Linked DNA regions of Homo sapiens: region 1 is linked to region 2. Evidence: fine-mapped QTL for protein levels in blood plasma. A gene starts in region 2. The other region holds a variant in brackets. All regions are shown on one strand. Distances are between the middles of the regions.

Region 1 (2,500 bases), 14 kb after region 2:
GCGAGACCACGAGCCCACCGGGAGGAACGAACAACTCCAGACGCGCCGCCTTAAGAGCTGTAACACTCACCGCGAAGGTCTGCAGCTTCACTCCTGAGCCAGCGAGACCACGAACCCACCAGAAGGAAGAAACTCCGAACACATCTGAACATCAGAAGGAACAAACTCCGGACACGTCGCCTTTAAGAACTGTAACACTCACGGCGAAGGTCTACAGCTTCACTCCTGAAGCCAGGGAGACCACGAACCCACCGGGAGGAACAAACAACTGCAGAAACGCTGGCTTAAGAGCTGTAACACTCACCGCGAAGGTCCGCAGCTTCACTGCTGAGCCAGCGAGACCACGAACCCACCAGAAGGAAGAAACTCCGAACACATCCGAACATCAGAATGAACAAACTCCGGACACGCCCCCTTTAGGAACTGTAACACTCAATGCGAGGGTCCGCAGCTTCATTGTTGAAGTCAGTGAGACCAAGAACCCACCAATTCCGGACACAAAGAGAGGAGTATATATGTGATTAAGATATGTATTTCTGACTTGAAGTGAAATATTCTGGAAAACTCACACAACTATGGTAAAGAAGAATTACTCAATTCCTTTTAGTCCTCTTGTAGTCACTCATTAAAAGATAAGAAATTCGGCCAGGCACAGTGGCTCACGCCTGTAATCCCAGCACTTTGGGAGGCAGAGGCAGGCAGATCAATTGAGGCCAGGAGTTCGAGATCAGCCTGGCCAACATGGTGAAACTCCGTCTCTACCAAAAATAAAAAAAAATTAGCCACGCAGCGTGGCATGCACCTGTAATCCCAGCTACTTGGGAGGCTGAGGTGGGAGGATGGGAGGATCACTTGAGTTCAGGAGGTTGAGGCTGCAGTGAGCCGAGATCGTGCCACTGCACTGTAGCCTGAGTGCAGTGACATCTGACATCAGGGACTGCTGATGAGTTACAAAAAATAAATAAATGAAAGAAATTCGTTTAGGAAACCTTTAATATGATTGAGATGACAAAACC[T/C]TTGGGAATGAGAAAAAAAAGAGCTGTGGAGATAAAAGTGAAAGTTCAGGATCTCAGAGAAACTAAGAAACTTTGGTAGATGAGAAATAGGATAAATGGAAGAGTATCTGAGACAGAAAAAGATTAAGCAAACAGAGGATTGTGGCCAACATCATGGCAAGGAAACATGAAAAGCAAGGTTTTGAGCAACCATGCTGTAATAACTTTCTAAAACATTGTAGTCTCCACAGTGTGCTTAGGGCAATATTTACAAACCTACAGGCTGATGTTAAAATGGTTTTGTGCTCAGGTAGCATGTCTCCTACAGAGACAGGAGGCAGGAGACAAGCCTGAGTTGCAAGGGTAATTAGAATCAGCCAGAAAAAGAATGGAAAAAGAAAGTTGGTGTGCAGGGAGAGGAATTTATTTGAACTTCTCCATCAAGCGTGTTCTGCTACAGGCACAGCACAGGCTGTGGGCACAGCACCCTCTCGTGTCTGGGAGAGTCACTGCAGCTTTGCTGTGTGGTACGAGCACAGCTGTTCAGCTCTGTTAACTTGAATAAATATTTACAGTAGTGTTCTCTCTAGTGACCCAGGGCCTATTTGGTGTGCCTGACTGTTGTTCTAAGCTTTAGTCTTACCACCTCTCCACCTCGAAATGGGGCGTTCAGGTCTGGCCAGGCTGGAGGCAAGGCTATGAATTGTATGCTGTGGAACTGTCTTTCAGTGTCTGTGAATTTGCCTACTAGTGCCTTTAGCAGGGAGGGTGGGGTGCTCTCCCATGTTTGAAATAAAGACCTTAGTCTTTAGTTTCAATTTAACCTGCAGTTTAACATTTCACGCAGTATAATGCAGCCATAAAAAAGAATGAGATCATGTCTTTTTCAGGGACATGGATGAAGCTGGAAGCCATCCTTCTCAGCAAACTAACACAGGAACAGAAAACCAAATACCACATGTTCTCACTCATAAGTGGGAGTTGAACAATGAGAATACATGGACACAGGGAGGGGACCATCACACACCAGGGCCTGTCAGGGGGTGGGGGACAAGGGGAGGGAGGGCATTAGGACAAATACCTAATGCATGTGGGGCTTCAAACCTAGGTGACAGGTTGATAGGTGCAGCAAACCAGCATGGCACATGTATACTTATGTAACAAACCTCAGGTTCTGCACATGTATCCCAGAACTTAAAGTAAAAAAAAAAAAAAATCCACGTGGTATAACAGAAGGATCACTTTACACAGCGGTCCCTGATGTCTGATGTGGGACCAGCAACAACTTTGAGGAAGGTTTTGGTGACAATCAGCTATCTTGAGGTGGCTATTTCTAGACTGATTACTTCCTTCCCTCGCATCCTCCCTTCCTTCCTTCCTTCCTTCCTTCCTTCCTTCCTTCCTTCCTTCCTTCCTTCCTTCCTTCCTTCCTTCTGATGTAGCCAGTCTAAATTATTAAAAGATAAAAAGACTCCCTTAAGCCCTTTTGCCCCCATCGGGCTGCT
Region 2 (3,011 bases):
AGGCCTAATCTTAGCCAGAGGAACCAGGGCCCTCAGCAAGGAACAAATACAGCCTATACTGGCACCGGTCCCTCAAGGCGTAGCACCAACCAGATTGATAAACTCACTTATCTGACCTTGTGGCCCTCGCCCAGAAACTGACTCAGTCCAAGAAGACAGCTTAGATCCCCTATGATTTCATCTCTGACCCAAACAATCAGCACTCCTGACTCACTGGCCTTTCCCCACCCATCAAACTATCCTTAAAAACTCTGAGTCCCCGTATGCTCGAATGCTTGGGGAGCCGGATTTGAGCAATAATGAAATTCCAGTCTCCTGCATAGCTGGTTCTGCATGAACTCTTTCCCTATTGCAGTTCCCCTGTCTTGATAAATTAGTTTTGTCTAGGCAGCAGGCAAGGTGAATCCATTGGGCGGTTACATATTGGGGAGGGGGGACTGTAAGGGAATGAAATCCTGAGCATTATCCTCAAAGGAGGGAGGGGCCTTATAGACTTAGGCCTATCTAGAAGCGCCTCTCTCCTCAGAGAGTAAAACCTCACTGTTTCTCAGAGGGCTGAGAGGCTTGAAGGAAGAGTTTGGGCAGAAACTCTGCTTTGAATAGAAGCAGCAGATCCAGTTGAGAGAAAGAGGTTCACAAATTCCATTTCATGGCTTTTTTTTTTTTAAAGACAGATTTTCACTCTTGTTGCCCAGGCTGGTGTTGAATGGCATGATCTCAGCTCACTGCAACCTCTGCTTCCCAGGTTCAAGCTATTCTCCTGTCTCAGCCTCCCGAGTAGCTGAGATTAAGGCGCATGCCACCATGCCCGGCTAATTTTTGTATTTTTAGTAGAGACGGGGTTTTCACCATATTGGTCAGGCTGGTCTCGAACTCCTGACCTCAGGTGATCCACCTGCCTCGGCTTCCCAAAGTGCTGGGATTACAGGCAAGAGCCACTGCGCCCGGCCTCATGTCTTTTTTATACTTAAGCACCAGGCCCATGTAATGATGCACGAATTCATTTACTCCTACTCGTGCCAGGCCCTTTCCTGGGGGCTGGAGACAAAGGGCCGACGTGGACGCTGCGTCATGGTAGCACCTGTCTCGCAAAGTGCACACCGTGCTCCACCCACAGCCTCAGCATTCTCGTTGCTAGGAATATGGACCCTCAGGCAGCACCTCAGACCTAGACCTACTGTATCAGAATCTCTGTGCTGGTCCTGAGAATGTGCATTCTCAACAGCGCCTCACATTCCCCACCCCAATTCTTCTGCAGCTAACGTTTGAGAGCGCTGGTCTGGTGCCTACTGCCTCTGCAGGCGGTTTTCAAGGCAGCCGTGTGTGCTTGCATGTGAGGCGGCAAAAACAGCGCGCTGCAGGGCCGGCGCGGTGGCTCACGCCTGTAATCCCAGCACTTTGGGAGGCGGAGGCGGGTGGATCACGAGGTCAGGATATCGAGACCATCCTGGCTAACACGGTGAAACCCCGTCTCTACTAAACAAAAATACGTGGTGGTGGGCGCCTGTAGTCCCAGCTATTCGGGAGGCTGAGGCAGGAGAATGGCTTGAACCCGGGAGGCAGAGCTTGCAGTGAGCCGGGATCGCACCACTGTACTCCAGCCTCGGCGACAAACAAACAAACAAACAAAAAAAACAGCGCGCTGCAGATGGAGCCAGCACCCGGGCTTCTCGCTCCCAGCCCCCTCCCGAAGCCCCGCCCCGCCTCCGGGTCTGGAGGAGGCTGGGAAGCCCCGCCCCTCCACGCTAGCGCCGCCCAGGCTGGCACAAAGGAGGAAGCCTAGTCCCGCCCCTGCGTGCGGCGCTTCTCCCAGGCCCCACCTTCCATCCAGTGCCCTGGACCCTCGGCTGGGTAGCGCCACCAGAGCGACCAAACGTCCCGCGCCTTCCAGGCCGCACTCCAGAGCCAAAAGAGCTCCATGGCGGCGGCGGCCAAGCCCAACAACCTTTCCCTGGTGGTGCACGGACCGGGGGACTTGCGCCTGGTAAGCTGGGAAGGAGGGTGGGAAGCATACCGATCCTGCCTCACTCTCCTCTGAGCCCAGCCATAGTCCTGGCTTCCCACTTCCAGCCTGGCGCCGGCCCCGCACCTTAAGCGCCCTGGCTGCCCAGATCCCAGCTGGTTCCCCTCGGGGTGTGGGGGCAGCAGGTAGTGGCTGTTGCGAAGGGCAGGGATCTAGTCGTGTGCCTCCCGGAACCTAGCCCCGTGGCTGGCACGTGGCCGGTGCCCAGGACGGTTGCAAACTGTTTGAATGAAGCTTTCTCTCTCCTTTGCCAGCTGCAGATTCATAGTCCAGCCTCTTGTCATTGACCTTTCCAAAGGAAATGCTAAGGCTGTCTGAATTATCGGGGCAGACCGTGCAGAGCAGAGAAAGGGGGGCCAGAGGACACTTAGAAACAGCAGAACTTGTATTTAACTCCCTTGCTTGGGACTGATAAACCTCCCTTGCAGGATTATGATGATCACAAGAGTACTCAGCACTTAGTACGTGCTCAGGAAGTGCCAGCTCCTTCTCCTTTCCTTCCAGTCTAGGCCTCCATCTCCAGAACCCCTGCTGTTCCCCTTGCCTGTGCCAGACTTGTGGATCTTGATAGCTCCCTTGTCTGTAAGGATCCTTCTCTCCCTAAGACCCTGTCTGGTTCACTTTCCAGCAGTTTTTCTTTCCAATCCCGTGCCTCTGTCCCTTTAGGAGCATTCTGTATGTGTGTCCTCTGCCTTAGACCCTGCCTTTTGCTCCCTGGCTTGTGGCACCAAAGTTTAGGAAGTGGCTGAGTCAGCAGCCTAGTCATGCCAAGCCTCCCTTGACAAAGTCCCTCTCAGATGGGCCTGGGATGGCAGTGGGTATGTGGGATGAGTGCCAGCCATCTCTGCTGCTCCCCTGTACCTCTTTTCCCTCAAAGTACATGCGTCAGTATGTAAACTGCAGTAATTCAGAAGCTTATCCAGGTTAGCAGTTCTTGACTATTTAAGAATCTGTGGTGTCCCCTCCACAGAATGCAAATAGACTGAGT

Alleles and levels. Alleles are on the strand shown, and positions count from the first base shown. The strength of an association depends on the size of the effect and on how common the allele is.
In carriers of allele C in region 1, the plasma level of the protein whose gene starts at base 1,830 in region 2 tends to be higher than with T alone (moderate association).

The links. A credible set is the group of variants that fine-mapping cannot tell apart. PIP is the chance, under the fine-mapping model, that this variant and not a neighbour inherited with it causes the effect. Protein levels are from antibody-based Olink assays in UK Biobank. Linkage for the fine-mapping came from a reference panel and not from the study's own genotypes, which makes the PIPs less certain.
Region 1: its variant is the best candidate, but not a certain one, in a credible set for the plasma level of the SORD protein (UK Biobank, PIP 0.58).

What each region holds. Positions count from the first base shown.
Region 1 is chr15:45,035,767-45,038,266 of GRCh38, forward strand. All of the region lies in intron 1 of SORD (sorbitol dehydrogenase), which reads left to right. Among named protein-coding and RNA genes, the nearest start is that of SORD, 14 kb to the left of the region's middle. The variant T/C (reference allele first, on the strand shown) is at 1,017.
Region 2 is chr15:45,021,366-45,024,376 of GRCh38, forward strand. It overlaps SORD (sorbitol dehydrogenase), which reads left to right and starts at 1,830. Exons shown (of 9, transcript NM_003104.6): 1 at 1,830-1,984. The coding sequence starts at 1,919. RefSeq lists a silencer at 1,610-1,779 and an enhancer at 2,549-3,011.